2 separate regions of the Homo sapiens genome follow, and region 1 is linked to region 2. A link means that fine-mapping ties the variant in region 2 to the expression of a gene that starts in the linked region. Tissue or cell type: tibial nerve. Region 2 holds a variant in brackets; the other region holds the start of a gene. All regions are shown on one strand. Distances are between the middles of the regions.

Region 1 (8,110 bases), 370 kb before region 2:
TTTCTTTGACACATCTAGTTCTTATATCCAGAGTTAAGATAACAATTACCTTCTCAGCAGTCATGGCCAGCTCCATCCTGGTGTACCTTAAGAAATCTGAAATATCAAATAGTCAGACCAAGCTAGTGAACAAGGAGACTCCCCATGAATAATTTAGAAAATGGAGGTGGTTGGATGATACATACAAAAAAGAATTACCAACCTAATGCTTTCCCTCATCCTCCTAGGGCACCCTCCTTACATTTCTAACCTGCCTTACACACAACACACACACACCCCCAACAAATACACCAACACATAATCGCCTTCCCTTTCTGTTATTTGCTAAAGGACTATCAAAATAAAAAAATAATAATACTTCTCCAAGCTTTCACTAACCTTTTAATACAAGTCAATGCTGCAGACTCCTTATTGTAAAATATAGTCTGAAATATTAACAATAAATTCATAATATTCTTATGTCAGCATTCTATGGTGCTGTGTGAAGAAGAAAACAAAAACCTTCAGGCAATAAAATAACTTTGACCTGAGCTAAGCAAAAACGATCTGTTTGGATACATACACTTATTAGTCATTGTTTGAAACAGGCACCAAAATGATTTTCCAGTTTGAAAGCTTCCCCAGTTACACTTGGATGCAGTAAATCGGATGTAAAAGCTAAGAACTGATACAAAATCACTATTTCTAATAATGTTAATTATAAAAGCCAGTATGTTCCTGGCCCACAAATAATCAGAATGAAATAAAAAATCAAACACCCCCGTTTGCCCATTATTGTTTTACTTAACTTCAGATTGTGTGTGTGTGTATGTATGATCTCACCAGGGAAAAATTCTGTGTAATTCTGGATAAAATATAACGCTAATGAACTGACTAGTAACTGCATAGCTGTAGTATTTAAAACTGTGATTATTCCAACTGTGATTATATCCAGTTACCAAGGATACTGAAAGTTCAGGATCTTCATTTTTGTATATTATTCCACAGCCTTATATTCTTTACACATAAAAAAAGAATGATGCTTCCCAAATAGCGTCAATATAGCGATATATTAACTTTTCTTTTTAGCAAACATGACACTAAACGTCATATTCATTCATGAGAGAAGAGTTAAGCAAATTACAAATGGAATTTTCTCTTTTCTGCTGATTTACACTTTATTTTCTATGCATTTCTGGTCATTTCTATATGTGTATAGATAATTTTCATAACACTATATATGTTTTCACTGAAAAGAACCTGTTATTTAGGAATCTTCACAAAGAGTGAAGAGCATGACAAAAAGTACATAATAAGAGAATAGTGCAGGTTTTATACTCCTTATTTGCATTTAACTGTTTTAACAACTATCACCTCAAAATAAAAAGGAGGTGAATAGCAAATTTGTTAAGTTTTTGCTGTTTGGAGACAGTAAGAGATGAAGAGATGCTACTAAGCCCTCTGAATACCAAACTGGAATAATAATAAAGCTGTCTTTTAAAATAACATGCTTGTGCCTGTCAGTAGCTGCTTTATTTGAGTTTTTCATTGCTTTGTTTATATTAGTGCCCCCTCCCTCCTGGGTGCCTCTAGAATTAAACAAGCAGGTATTTACCACCAACTTAATCTTTAGTTTTAAAAATATAGACCAAACTCTAAGGTTCTCTAAATTTTTTATATTTATTTATTGCAGAAAAATATACAAAGATATTTACAAAACAATCATAAAAATATGAATGCATTTAGACACCGGATCTATTTGCATTTTACCATGGGTCCTCAATAAATAAATAGAATGTTGTTTTTTGTATTTTAAGTTTTTTTTTGTTTTTCCCCTCAGAGGAAGGATGAAAAAAAGAATTAACTGACTATGGTTTTGCAGGCCAGTTTGATCCCAGTATTTTTATTTCTAAAGGTGTTCTTATAGTTCCTCTGATTGTTACCATTTTAAAATAGAGAAAGTCCATAGTGATGCCTTTCCTTTCAGTGGCTGATTGGCACGACCTCTTGAGAATGCATGCATGAAAAAAATAAAAATAAAAACATTCTTCGTCAAAAAAAAAAAAAAAAAAAACACAAACAACTGTTCAGACTTCTATCAGAATGCAGAGGTGTGAGGATGGTGCCGCTGCCCGTCTGGGAATCACTGTCCACGGGCCTGTCTCGCTTTCTCTTTTAAAAGTGCGCCCCACGCCCTGTTTCTTTGAATTTGGATTTTGCTCTTCTAATTTCCAAGAAAATCTTTGGCATATATTTTTATTTTTAGTTATCCAGCTCCAGAGTCTCTAGACTGTCCATTTTCTCCTTCTCTGGAAACAATGACATCTGCAAAAACCCAGAGGGGGGGGGGGGAGTCGGTTATTGTTTAGGTCTCTGCGGCTGTTTTCTAAGACTAGTGAGCACTGTTCTTATCACCACCACTGAGAAATTAAGCTGAACAACCTGGAAGGATTTCAGCCCAAGGGCAAGAGGAAGTGGGTGGGTGGAAAGGAGGAGGAGGTGGAATTTGTTTTAAAACATTTGTTTTAAGGAGAACAAAAATTGAAAGCCGAAAGAAAGGGTGGCGCTGACAAAACGGTCCTTACCCGTGACCCTGGGTGTCTCTGTCTCCCCTCCTGTCACGCACACTCACGCGCACACACACCCCTCACCAGGGCGCATCCCCCTGGAGACTGCTCTCCCTAGCGGGGTCAGACCGGCCTTCCGGGGACGCTGGGGGCGCGAGGCAACGGTGCCAAGTGAGGTGGGAAGGCTGAGCGGAGAGTGGGAGAGGGGAGGAAATCGAGGTGGACTGGGAACCGCGGCCTGGCCGGCCTGCCGTCTGCCACCTGAGAGGCGAAGGGGTGCAGCGGCGCGGTCCTTACCTAGGTCTCCGGCCCTGCTGAGGGGGTGGGGGGCTCCGCCTGCTAGTGGGACGCGGACATGGACCAGGCCCCCTCCATCCTCCAGACCGAGAAGGCGTAGCTGAGCCGCTCGTGAGCCACATAGCTGCAGCTTGCCATCTTGGAGTCCAGCTCGTCGCTCTGGAGGACCTGGTAGAGGAAGTCGATGTACCTGGCCGCCAGCTTGAGGGTCTGAATCTTGCTCAGCTTGTCCGAGGGCAGCGTGGGGATGATCTTCCGCAGCGCGGCGAACGCCTCGTTCAGCGACTGGGTGCGCTGGCGCTCCCGCACGTTGGCCATGACCCGCTGCGTCTGCAGCTCCTCGTAAGACTGCGGACTCCCGCCGCCGCTGCTGCTGCCGCCGCCGCCGCCCGCGCCGCCGCCGCCGCCACAGCCCGCAGACTTCTTGCCGCGCTTGCCCTGGGCCGGGCTGCCCGGCTCGTCGCCGCCTCCGACGCCCCCACCCGCGGCTCCGCCGGGCCCCGCGCCGCCGCCCGCGCTGCGCCTGCTGCTGCGCCGCTTGCGTCCCCCGCGCTTGCCGCTCGGCGGCTGCTGCCGGTCTGGCTCTTCCTCGCTGTTGCTCAGGCTGTCGTCGGCCGGCGAGACTGGCGAGCTGGACACGTCCTGCATCATCTCTCGAGCGGCGACGCGTGGCCTCGCGGGCCCGGGGCAGAGGAGAAGAGCGGGGCGCCTCAGCCCGCCAGCTTCCCCCGCGCGCGGCGCCGGCCCGGGCGATGCGGCCCGCGGAGGAGAGAGCAGGAGGACGGACGGGAGGGACCTCCGCGGGGAGGGCGCGCGGGGGAGGCGGGGAGGGAGGCGGGAGGGGGAGGGGACGGTGTGGATGGCCCCGAGGTCCAAAAAGAAAGCGCCCAACGGCTGGACGCACACCCCGCCAGGCCTCCTGGAAACGGTGCCGGTGCTGCAGAGCCCGCGAGGTGTCTGGGAGTTGGGCGAGAGCTGCAGACTTGGAGGCTCTTATACCTCCGTGCAGGCGGAAAGTTTGGGGGCAGCAGTGTCATTGGCCTGACGTGAGGAGGAGGGACTTTTCGAAGTTTTATAGGAAAGTTTCCGCTTTCCAGTCCCCCTCCCCCGTCCCACCTCCCTTCCTCGGGGTCTAACAATTCGTCCTCCCAAACCATTCAAAAACGACCTGGCCCGGGCGGCCGGCCCCTCCACCCGCCTCCTAGCCGCCCTCCCCCTTCCCTCCCCGTCGCCTTCCTCCGGCGGGCGCGGGGCGATTTCCTTCCCCGCCGGAGCGTGCGGGCAGCGCCCCCGAACCCTAGCGCAGCCCAGGAAGCGGTCGGAGGAGACTGTCCTGGCCGCGGTGGCAGCCCCATCCGGAGTGGCTGTGACAGCAGCAATGGCAACAGCTTCTACACAGTGGGTGATGTCTCATCTCGCCCAAGAGCCCTCTAGGTCCGTGGGGCCGATTTGGGATTGCTGGGGCTGGGGGGGTGGTGTGGCGCGGGGTGGGGGGGCATGCCAAGAAAAGTGTCAACCGCGGAGCCCACCCAATGGTCAGGTAGACGAACCCCTTGGAGTTCCAAAGGCCAAACCGCGGCGGCCCAGCCCGGAGGTCCTGGGCGTTTCTGAAGACGTGGCCGCGCCGCGGGGGCTGAGGATTTGCGTCCCGGCCTGCTCTCTCGCCCTTCTGGGCCCTCCTTTCCCCTCTACAACGACCCAGTCTGACGCTCCCCAACATCCAAAGGACTACGCCTCGGAAGGTGCTCGAAAGAGGCAGAAGTTCACTCTTCGGTGGAAGGAAACCCAGTCCATGGGAAAGGCAGCAGAGCCAGAGGGGGGCAGCGCAGCGCCTTTGCTGCGGCCCTAACAGCTGGCAATGCCAACCCAAGGGAGAGACCCTGTGGCCATTTCATCCCCACCCCCAAATTAGGCTCCGCATTGTGACCTTGAAAGGCCAGCTTGTAAGAGAGTGAAGTGGGAATTTGATAGCGCCTAGACATAGGGGCTGCCCGCTCTGAGACCCCCCCCGCCCCAGCCCCCACTATCTAGGGCATCCAGTGGACAATTAGGCTTCGTGAGCCCCAATTCCAAATGCTTGGATACGCTAACATTTTAAGCATTTCTGTCTGTAAGTTAAAACGAAGAGCCCCAAAGAGGGTGTTAATGTAGATCCTGGCAAACTGGAAGCAGCAAAGTTGGTGAACCAGAAAGGAAGTCGCCTTGGATAAGAAGCCCATCTTTTGCAATGCCATACTTGTTTCCTTTTTGAAATGAATTGAGGTAAAATAACCGTTTCAGGTCCATCCCTTACATGGCAAAGTAAAAAGCTGGAGTCAGTACACAGTGTTGGGGTGGGGGCAGCGTTTGGGGGCGACGAGTTTTGTGCACCGCGCTGGAGTACCCTGCACATAAGGTCCGCTCATGGGCTTCTCAGTACGGACTCGCCGGCGGGAACAATTAATTGAGCAAAGCGCCCCTTTCTGGGCTGGAGCAAGGTTCGCGGCTGCAGATATCTCAAGCTGAAGGCAAGAGCCCAGGCGAGGCGCAGGCAGGCCACGTGGCTGTTCCCTGCTGAGACTCGCAGCTTTGGTCTTGGAAACCTCAGGGTGTGGAGCTGCTTGGGCCGACTGAAGGGTTCAGCTTTTTGGGAGAAGTGAGGGCGAGTGTTATTTCTCCAGCGAGGTGTAAACAAGACTGTGCTTTCATGGGAGGGACAAATTGCAGAGTTGATCCCTTACCATTTTTACAGAAATACTCAGAAAGTGACTACAGCTTGTCAACTGGCCTGTTTAGTGAGCCGCTGCCTTACTGTAAAATTGTCTGAAAATCAGATTCGACTTGACCTCCACTTAATTTCAGTAGCACTCTAGCAGTTCTCAAAACAGTCACCCCTGCACCCTTGCGTTTGCATCTTCCGCTACAGGATTTTATCTCTTGGAAGCGCTTAGAGAATGCGGCAGAAATTCTGCCCCACTCTCCACCAAGTGTTCTTTTTGTAAATCTGAATTTACAGTATTCTGCAATTCTTATTTAGAACGTGGCTGCAGAAATCTCGAAACCTTTTCCACTTCAGCTATTTTTTTAAAGATAAATCTTATTTTTGTTTTGTTCTTTTTTTCTCTTTTCTCAAAAATAAATAAAGAGATCGAATGATTGGACTCTTTCCTTTGTGGCCACGGATAAGTAAGACAGGAAAGTGTGGGTAAAGTGTAAAGGAAATCTTACCTGACCAAGGGGAATTTGGGAAGGGGAGGGGAGCGGACAAGCTAGAGGAGAAACCAAGTCCACAGCAGCGCAGCAGCCAGGGGTCATTAGCCAGTCCATCTTGCAAAGTCATCAGTCTCAAAGACTGGTTCTTAAACAAGTGAGCCCAGCCCTTTTCCCGGCACTAAACTTCTAGCTGATGAAGAGCTCCTGGCCATTGGGTACAGGGATCCCCGCAAGGCTCAGGCGACGCTCTGATGCCAGAATACTGAGAGGGGAATTCAAAATGAACACCTAACCAGAACCATCCTGCCCATGGACTCTTTCAGCCACAGTCACAATTGATGACTAGTTCTAAGAAGAAATGGCTCTTGAACTGTTCCGGGGAGTGGAGGATGAGACGACTTTTGAGTTCTTAAGTGGGGCTTGAATGTTACTTTTGGAGCAAAAGTAGTCCAGGAGGTACCTCTCAAAAAATGGCTGGAGCTAGATACTCCCTGCTTTGCAAACTGCAACACGCCCTGGCTGACGAGTCCAGTCTGCTCATATACAGCTCTTTCTTATCTAACATTTTACCTAACAATTTTCTTTTCCACATTTGCAAGGATGGCTCCCTTTTTACTTGTTGACAGGTCAGGTATAATTCTGGATTCTCTTATATATGCAACAATAATTGCAACTTCTGCAATGTTTAGTTTAAATTTGAAAGCTTCTTTCTAAAATCCCAATCTTGAGATCATGAAAACAATCTTAGAAATTTTCTTTTGAGGCTGAAGTTAGCCTAACTGGAAGTATGTCAGTGGGGACTACCTTCTTTGGGAATGCTAGATTAACTGGAATTCAGTCATTTTGCCTCCTTCTAAAGTAAAGTCCTCCCCAAAAAAATTTAACTGAAAAAAAAAATTTCTTTTGTACTTGGATAGTTCAAAACGATCTTTGTTTTCAAACTGCAAACTTGGCATGTTTGCAATCCTGCCTGAGGAATGTGTGCTGTGTTAAAAATTGAAACAAAAAATACTGTTAAAAGTAACAGAGTTAGAAATCTCACATTGAACATATACAATAAGTATTAAGTATCCTGGCAGTTTGAATATGCTGTGACATTCTCTTAGCAACAACCAATTATAAATACTTTTAGATACGGAAAAGAAACACACACTATAGAATGGTTAGCCAACTGGTAAATTCTGGAGTTTGGGCTTGCATAAAAGGTGAGTACCTCAATCTGTTCCTACTCTTCTTTCTCCTCAGACCTTAGATGGCCTATCACCTGTTTGTTGGCTCCGAGTTCTGAGAAATAATTTATCTGAATTGCATAAATAGTGCACAGGAGCATTCGCACGGAAGGGAGTGAAAATTAGAAAGGCTGCAATTGAGTGAATATCAGATGAGGTTGTATATCTTAGATTTCATCTTGCTTTGAACACTCCAGAGGGACTGCTGTTTAAATGAGAGAATTTTAGTAAGGTGGAATATAAAGTCATGTATGTCAACACAATAACTGTGTAAAAGCTTATTCTTCTTTCATGACCCTGGTAGCCTTAATGATGTTTGAACACCTTTCCCTATATAAAAACTCATTCTCTTTCTCTTTAAATGATGATTTGATTCATAAACTCAACTGATTCTACATTTTTCTATCTGAATATCTTTAAAAGTAAAAAAAACAAACTAAAGTTATAAAATGTGAAGTTTTCAATCCAGAAATAAAACGAAAAAGTAAAAAACACAATAAATTAGGGTGCGAACAGTACCGCAAGTGAAATTTTCAAATAAATGTTAATCTTTAAAATAGCTGACATTCTGAACTCAGCTTAAGGATGGGATGAGGAGACATAGGTCTAACCTGTAGAAAGTGCAGGATCAGAATATGGAAAAGTATGGAGTCTTGAAGAGCATTTTTTTTTTTCATTTTTTTTTTCAGGGGTTGTGCAGGCTGGAGAGTTGGTGTCTTAGCTGCCCATTAACCTTGTTGGAAAACACACTCACTTCACTTGTATCAAAGAGTTGCTGGAATAACTGATGAAAGAATGCAAGAAATAAATAGTTATTCATAGGAACTATTATCATGGTCTCAGTCT
Region 2 (8,110 bases):
TACTGTAGAATAATGAAATATTTATAATTTCATTTAATGTTGACAGCAATTTAATATATATTAAATTTTTAAAAATGGAAGTTCAGTAAGGTCAATTAAGTTGTCTAAGATCATATAGCTATTAAGTGTTAGAACCTGGATTAAATCCCGGGTCTTCTCCCCTCTAATATTTTTTTCATTCTGCCATACAGCCTCTATTAGCGCAACGGGGCATTATCACTAATATCTACTAATTCTGGACACTGATGAGTCTGCAATTTTATTTTCCTCTAGTTGTTAGCTAATTAGTTGGCCTGTTACTGTTTGATGGATGCTTGCAGAGGACACAGAACTTCTGGGTCAATGACAAAGAATGTGTTACTCACAACTTATCAAGCAACTTGGGCATTAGTAGATATGCATTGGTTTCTGTATTAGTTGTCTTGTACTAATGTAACAAGCTACCACAGATTTAGCAGCTTAAAACAACACTCAATTATTATCTCTCAGTTCTGTAGATCAGAAGTCCAGAGGCTTGGCTGATAATCTGTTTAAAGTCTTACAAGGTCAAAATCAAGGTGTCAGTGGGCTTGGGGTCTTTTCTGCAAGCTCCAGGAAAGAATACATTTTGCAGCACATTCAAAAATTTGTTGGCAGAATTAAATTCAAATAACGTGGTTGTTGGACTAAGGACCTTGATTGTTGGCTGCTGTTGGGCAGGGCTTATTTTCAGTTTTGTGAGGTCACCTGTATTCACGGGCCTGTGGGATCTTCCATTTTCAAGATCAATGGCACATCAAATACTTTTTCTCTGAATCTCTTTGACTTCCTCTCCTCCTGTACTTCCTTGACTTTCTCTTTGGCCTGTTCTTATAAGGCCTGATATGAACATGTTATGTTATGCTTAAACTGATAATCCAGCATAATTCCTCTATTTTAAGGTCAACTATTTGGTAACCTTAATTACCTCTGCAAATGCCTTGTGTTGTGTAAGGCAATGTATTCAGAAGCATGGTATCTCATTATACTCACTCTCTCAGGGATTAGGTATGGAATCTTCTTGGAGTTATAATTCTGCCTACCAAAGTTTTTTTTTATTTGTACGTCCCATGATAAAGCATGGTCCAGATGAATGCTCACATGCAGCAGTTTGGCATCCCAGTAGAGAAATTCTAACCTTGGAGAATCTACTACTTTTATAGCAAGCAGTAAGAAAGCCTGCTATTTGTTTAGTAGAAAGATATTTTATCTCTCAGCGTTACCAACTGCATAAACAAAATCCTCAGGAATTACTAGTGTAAAGAACAGTCAGGGCCTCACCTTCTTGACACAGTTAAGTTAGTAAGACTTGCAGGAAGCAAGAGACTCATAAAATACTGTCTCTCCCAACATACTCCCAAAGTTCTTGAAAAACTCCAAATGAGAATTTGACCTTTAATCTCTAAATACACAGATTATTCTTAACCAAGTAAAAATATTTCTTCCAGATCAGGCTTTCACTTACCTTGAAAAGTACATTCCCAGAATGTAGTAAAATTCCCAGAAGTGTGGGTGTGGAAGGCAAAAATGAAGCCAACTGTTAAATTCTATGCACTATTGGTGGATAAGGGGTAGTCTCTACCATTTAGATAAGTGACAGCAACAGGCAAGAATGAAGCCAACCTGTGAGGAAGCTTAGGATGGCAGATTAAAAAGATGTAATGGAAATACCCTTGATATATTATCATGGGAGTTGCAGTTTGCACCTTACCTCTATTGACATGTGACTTTAGACTAATCACTTAATTTCTCTGAGCTTTTGTTTTCATGTCTATTGAAAACCTAGGTAATAATGTCCTGAAACTCTTGGGGTGTCGCATTTCTAGTTGGAAGCCTCGGTGGCCCATGGCACCTTTGCCCATTTTTATTTGGGCCTGCTGGGCTCATTCCACCCACTCAGCCTGGCAGACTGCACTCACCTCATGCTACTGGCCTGGATCCCATGACTGCCAAGGGCAAGCCAGGTGCAGAGAGGCAAGGGGCATGTGAGCAAGTGAGTGTGGGGTCTATGCAGTGTGCCACACTGGCTGCTGTGGTGGGGTGGGCAGCTACAGGCACCACCACAGGTGCTGGCTCCATGAAAGTCTTCAGCTGGATCAGATGCATTGTGGGTGGCTTCTGCTGTAGGCACCTGTCTCTGGATGAGAGGAACATAGTGGTGCCTGGAAGCTTGGAGACACCAGAAACCACAGAGCCCCAAAGAGGGTCTTACAGCCCTGGCTCAGGGAGCCCCTAGGTCTGGGCTCCCAGAATGGCCTCAGCTCTTCTCTCCTTGTTGCCCACAACATGGTGAGCGGGGGAGGGCAGTGTTTCAGCCCTGCTTGTGTTACAGCTTTTTCAGTCTCACCATTCAGCAGGTGCCGAGTTCCTTTCCTGCATCCAGGAAGAATGAGGTATGCTGACAACCAGAGGGTGATCAAGGTGAAGAGGTGCTTGACTGAGTGACAGAACAGCTCTCAGGAGACCCAAAATGGGTAGCTCCTATCCGCAGGCAGGTCATCGCAACGTCTCTGCTGCTCTCAGCAGAGAGGAGACCCAGAGCAGGTAACTCATATTTGCAGGCAGGTCATGCAACATCTCTGCAGCTCTCAGTAGTGGACAGGAGACCCAGAGTGGGTAGCTCCTATCTGCAGGCAGGTCATTCCAACATCTCCGCAGTCCTTAGGGGAGAGGAAACCCAGAGCAGGTAGCTCCTATCCACAGGCAGGTCATCTTGATGTCTCTGTGGGTCTAGCTGAGTCCGGGGTTTTTATGGACTTCAGAAGGGAGATGTGCATGCTGATTGGTCCATGGACGGCCATCATTGGGCCTAGAAAAAGCGCCATAAGTTCTTGCTCTGGGCCAGGAACTCCACCCAGAACTGACAGCCTGGACCCCATGCTTCAGGCTGTCCCTAGCTTGAAGGTGTGCTTCACCAGGGATCTACCCGTTTCCACCTAGGAGTCAGTCTGCCTCCTGCTGCCATCAACCTGCTGTCCACAGTGCCCAGGCTGTTCATGCCAAAGGGTGCTTGCAGACCTGTGCCAAGCACCCTCAGTCCCCCTCAGCCTCCCTCCCATGATCATCAATGTCTAAAGACCAGAGGGGGGCCAAGTTGGCAGGGGTTTGGTGTGTCAGTGCTGCCTCAAGAATGTGCACACCTGCCAGGTCACAACAGTACCTGGCTCAGCCTCAGCTTTGTTCCAAAATCAGAGTCGGTGCTAGGAGTTCAGAGAGGCCAGGCAGCAGGAGCAGACACCTTCAAGCCTGCAGGGGCAAAGGGTGTTCCCAGGCCCTTGAGAGTGCAGGAATGTCCAGGTCCACAGCTGTGGCTGGGCAGCTGCAACTGCACCTGGGAGGGTGGGGCTCCTGCCCTGCCAACTCAGAAAAGGACAGGGCTCCCACCTGTTCCTGGCCCCTGCCAGCTCCGTGGAGCATGTGGTCCCTACTGCACCTCCCCTGCTGCAGCCAGAGTCTTCACAGTGGCCCCTCCAGATGGGCCATTGCTGCCATCAGTAATATCTATCTTACAGATTTATTGTGAGAAGTAAATAAGATAATTCCTATAAAGCTAGTAGCATTATATTTGCTATAGAGTACAAATCCCACAGGTTTCTCCATCATTCCCGCTTCTACTTAACTCAAAATATATCCAAATAAAAAGCAATCTGGCATGAACTTACCTTGATATGATAGAACATTGCAGCTTCCATCCCGCACTCCAAAATGTCCACTAAATAGTAATAGGTACCATTATTAAATACCACCACTGTGCCATAGGCTTCCTCTGAAAATCAGCTTCAAATTTAGCTTGACTGTGTACATGATAAATAAATGCGTGATCCCGAATAAGGATTATGTTTACATAAGTGTGTGGCTCCCCTAACTAAAAACATTTTACTTCTGTTTACTCCTGAGTTTAGAGAGATTTCAAAAGATAAACTTCGAGTATTATATAATCAATGTTTAATTCATGTAGAAGTATATATTAAGAATAGAATAACAAGAAGCCCCAAACTTTGGAAAATGTGAGCCATTCTCTAAGATAAATATTCACCTGCAAGAGACGTTGAGAAAATTCTGCTGGTTCCACTGCCCTGGGACAGTTTCCCAGACCCCTTAGGGCATAAGGCCCTGAGGACCACCTACTCAAGTGTATTCCTTTCCTTCATATCACAAAGGCTTCAGTACAATTTTGTGGTGTTATTGCTTGGCTCTGTAATCATTATTGTGGTTAGATTTTTTTAAAAAGCTCATTTTCATGCTTTCCAGCACAGGATCAGCTTTGCAGTGGAAAATACATTTATAAAAATATGTTGTTGCGTGTGAGTAACTTGCATTTTGGGCTTGTCCCCAGACCACC[T/C]GGAACACCTTCGTGAATTCCAGTGATCCAAAAGCTACATTGTGAAAGATGGCAGGATGCTTCATTAGGTTACTACTGATGGTGCTTTGAGATCCCCAAATAAATATCAGAAGCCAGTTTATTGTTCTCTTTTAAAGTCATTCTCCTTTTGCTGTAAAGTGTACTTTTTTCTACACATTAGTGTCTTGGTTAGTATTTGAAATGTGCAGCATATAAAATAATAAAAATATTGCCCTTTACTTTAGAAAGAGGTAAATATTTTAAATGACTGTAACATTCTGAGAAAGCTGCTGCCTGTTTTTCTAACCCGGACACTGGAGTCTGCAAAGTACAGACAACACCCTCAGAGCCTACCTCAGGGTTTATAGAAGGCCTAGTGTGTGGTCAAGACCTCTAGGCTTGCAGTTAAAAGTTCATACCCAGGATGGACTTGATGGTATTGATGGCTTTTTATAATTAAGTTGAAACTCTCCTCTGGCAAATATCCCAAGCCCAAGCAGTCAGTCCCTTGAGCTACCTACCACCAGTGTAGGGACATGAAGCCCCACAAATTTTTCCAATGCTCAAGAATTCTGATTTTTAAATAAATATTAATGCTCCAATTTCTGTGCTTTGGAAAGAGTAAAAGAAAAGGCTTAGGAATCTCGCCCACAAATTTCATGGTTAGAGAGAACGAACTACCTGACCAGCAGACAGAAGAGGCCAAAGGCACACCAAACCACACAGTGGAAGCTCAGTTTGCCAAAACTGTGGCTGAGTTGAAGTGGATTTGGCCCTAGATATATTAATTCCAGACACCCGGTGGTCTGAAACAGAAAAGGCAAAAGTAAGCAAACTGATTGGTAAAAGGGTAAGCTTTTTTCCCTCCTCATCCCTTTTTTGTAAGAGTTCCTCTCACATGTGCCTCTCATTTTCCCACGCAACAGTTGAAAGGAAGCAAAGTGTGGCAGGTGGCAGCACAGCTTTGAAGTCCTGCTGCCAGGGCCAGAGGTCTGACAAATGTTCCATGTGTTCTCTAGCCACATGAGGCGGACCCTTGTACTTCTAAACGAGAGGGCTGATCTCCTTCCACTTTCCCTTTTTTCTAAAGTGAGTTCATGTGCTTTTGATAGCAAGCCTTTAAGTTGGCATAAACTGACTGGCAACTTGTAGAAAATAAATTCGAGGTACCTGCTGCATCAGACCTTGGCTCTTGCCCTTTGGAAGTATTAAACTTGACTTGGTTTTGTCTTTATCGGTTCTTGTTGTTGTTGCTGTTAATACAAGGGAAAAACATAGATAAGAATACAAGCTTTAAATCAAATGTCGGGTATCCATTGTACTTTCATCACTTGTTGCCTTGAATTTTTAAAAAAATTAGTTTGATTTTTTTTTTTTTTTTTTCCATAGATTTGATTTTGCTTTTAGGTAATTGCTTCTGATACAAAAGAGCTCCCTCTAGCCACGAGCTTAAATATTACACATCCTGCTGAGCAGAAGAAACTTCCCTTAAATATGGGCTTGTTTATGTAGCAGTAAAACTATATTCTGAATATCAGTGATAAGGTTTCTGCAGAGCTATTTAACTTCCAATTTATTGAATTGGACCTTTTACTTTTTAAAATATTATTGACTGGAAAATATTTCTGCAGAAGGCAAATAATGAGCGATAGCTACTGGTGGTAGGAATTAGCTTTCAAAGTAAGAAACTGGAGCTGTTTTATATCATTTAGAGTGAAATTCCTCTTCGTACTCCTTAAAAATACTTAGGGAAAAGCTAATGTCCAAAAATAGTTTCGTTTTAAGCTTCGATCACATAAAAGGAAAGCATAAGTCTTGCTGTAGAAGGTGAAGTCCTTTGTGTGAGTTTATATAAAAAGGTAAACGTAAAAATAGAAAATATTTATACGTAATGTTATTTTAAATTAACTTGTGCTGCTGTTTTACCAAGGGCTACACTCCATTTCTTCATGTAATTGTGCTTGTATATTTATGCTTTTAGTGTGTTCACCTGTAAGTGGTAAAAGAAAACTGACGTATACGAGCAACACAAATCTAAATTATTTCCAAATATGTTTTTACTGTGATAAACCAGTAGGCTTCTTGAAAATTCCCAGTCAAATGGCAAGTTCTATGAGGGTAGGCTCCTTTCACTCAAACCTGCCACCATCTTCCACACAACTGGGTGATGAATGTCTCATTATCTTTGCCAAGTGGTCTTCTAAGAATTGGATAGAAAAAGCAAAACGAAAACAGAAAACTTGAGAGGCATGGCATGTGGAATAAAATAAAATTTTGATAGAATGGGATATTCATAAATATAAAAAAAATTATGGCAGATGTGAAAGTTAATTTTAAAGTTATTAAAATAAAAGGAGTTATCTTGGAATAGATTTGTCATAACCATTTTTAGCGTATAATAGCAATTAGAGCCTTGGTAGCAAAGGCTTTATTTTTTTTTTTTAAGACGAGGATGTGGATGTACATAGCTCAAACTTTCTTTTCTTATTTTTTTTAGTATACTTTAAGTTCTAGGGTACATGTGCACAACGTGCAGGTTAGTTACATATGTATACATGTGCCATGTTGGTGTGCTGCAGCCATTAACTCATCATTTACATTAGTTGTATCTCCTAATGCTATCCCTCCCCCCTCCCCCCACCCCACGACAGGCCCCAGTGTGTGATGTTCCCCACCCTCTGTCCAAGTGTTCTCATTGTTCAGTTCCCATCTATGACTGAGAACATGTGGTGTTTGGTTTTCTGTCCTTGTGATAGTTTGCTGAGAATGCTGGTTTCCAGCTTCATCCATGTCCCTACAAAGGACATGAACTCATCCTTTTCTGTGGCTGCATAGTATTCCATGGTGTATATATGCCACATTTTCTTAATCCAGTCTATCATTGATATACATTTAGGTTGGTTCCAAGTCTTTCCTATTGTGAATAGTGCCTCAATAAACATACGTGTGTATGTGTATTCATAGCATCATGATTTATAATCCTTTGGGTATATACCCAGTAATGGGATGGCTGGGTCAAATGGTATTTCTAGTTCTAGATCCTTGAGGAAATCGCCACACTGTCTTCCACAATGGTTGAACTAGTTTACAGTCCCACCAACAGTGTAAAAGTGTTCCTATTTCTCCACATCCTCTCCAGCACCTGTTGTATCCTGACTCTTTAATGATCGCCATTCTAACTGGTGTGAGATGGTATCTCATTGTGATTTTGATTTGCATTTCTCTGGCCAGTGATGATGAGGATTTTTTCATGTGTCTGTTGCTGCATAAATGTCTTCCTTTGAGAAGTGTCTGTTCATATCCTTTGCCCACTTTTTGATGGGGTTGTTTGATTTTTTTTTTTTGTAAATTTGTTTAAGTTCTTTGTAGATTCTGGATATTAGCCCTTTGTCAGATGGGTAGATTGTAAAATTCTTCTCCCATTCTGTGGGCTGCCTGATCACTCCGATGGTAGTTTCTTTTGCTGTGCAGAAGCTCTTTAGTTGAATTAGATTCCATTTGTCAATTTTGGACATAGCTCAAACTTTCAATTGTTCTGAGAGAATTCAAACGGCACTAAGTAACTCCAGATTCTCAGTTATCCGACTGGAAATACCTAGAACTTCGTCTTCACCCAGCGTTTTCTAGTACTTTACCATTTTTATTTTGCATGCACATACCTTGCATGTGCGAGTGATTATGGCATTCCCTGAAGCACAGTAGTTTTGAGATGATAAACATCTTTCTCCTTTCACCTCTCTGAGCAAAGAT

The links. PIP is the estimated chance that this variant, and not a neighbour inherited with it, causes the effect.
Region 1: it holds the start of TWIST1, and the variant in region 2 is fine-mapped to the expression of TWIST1 in tibial nerve (GTEx, PIP above 0.99).

Annotation. Positions count from the first base shown.
Region 1 is chr7:19,113,828-19,121,937 of GRCh38, forward strand. TWIST1 (twist family bHLH transcription factor 1) reads right to left here and starts at 3,809. Exons shown (of 2, transcript NM_000474.4): 1 at 2,844-3,809; 2 at 1,641-2,304. The coding sequence starts at 3,494. The coding sequence ends at 2,886. RefSeq lists enhancers at 2,816-3,075, 3,099-3,882, 4,956-5,819.
Region 2 is chr7:19,486,236-19,494,345 of GRCh38, forward strand. No RefSeq gene overlaps it. Among named protein-coding and RNA genes, the nearest start is that of MIR3146, 220 kb to the right of the region's middle. The variant T/C (reference allele first, on the strand shown) is at 4,361.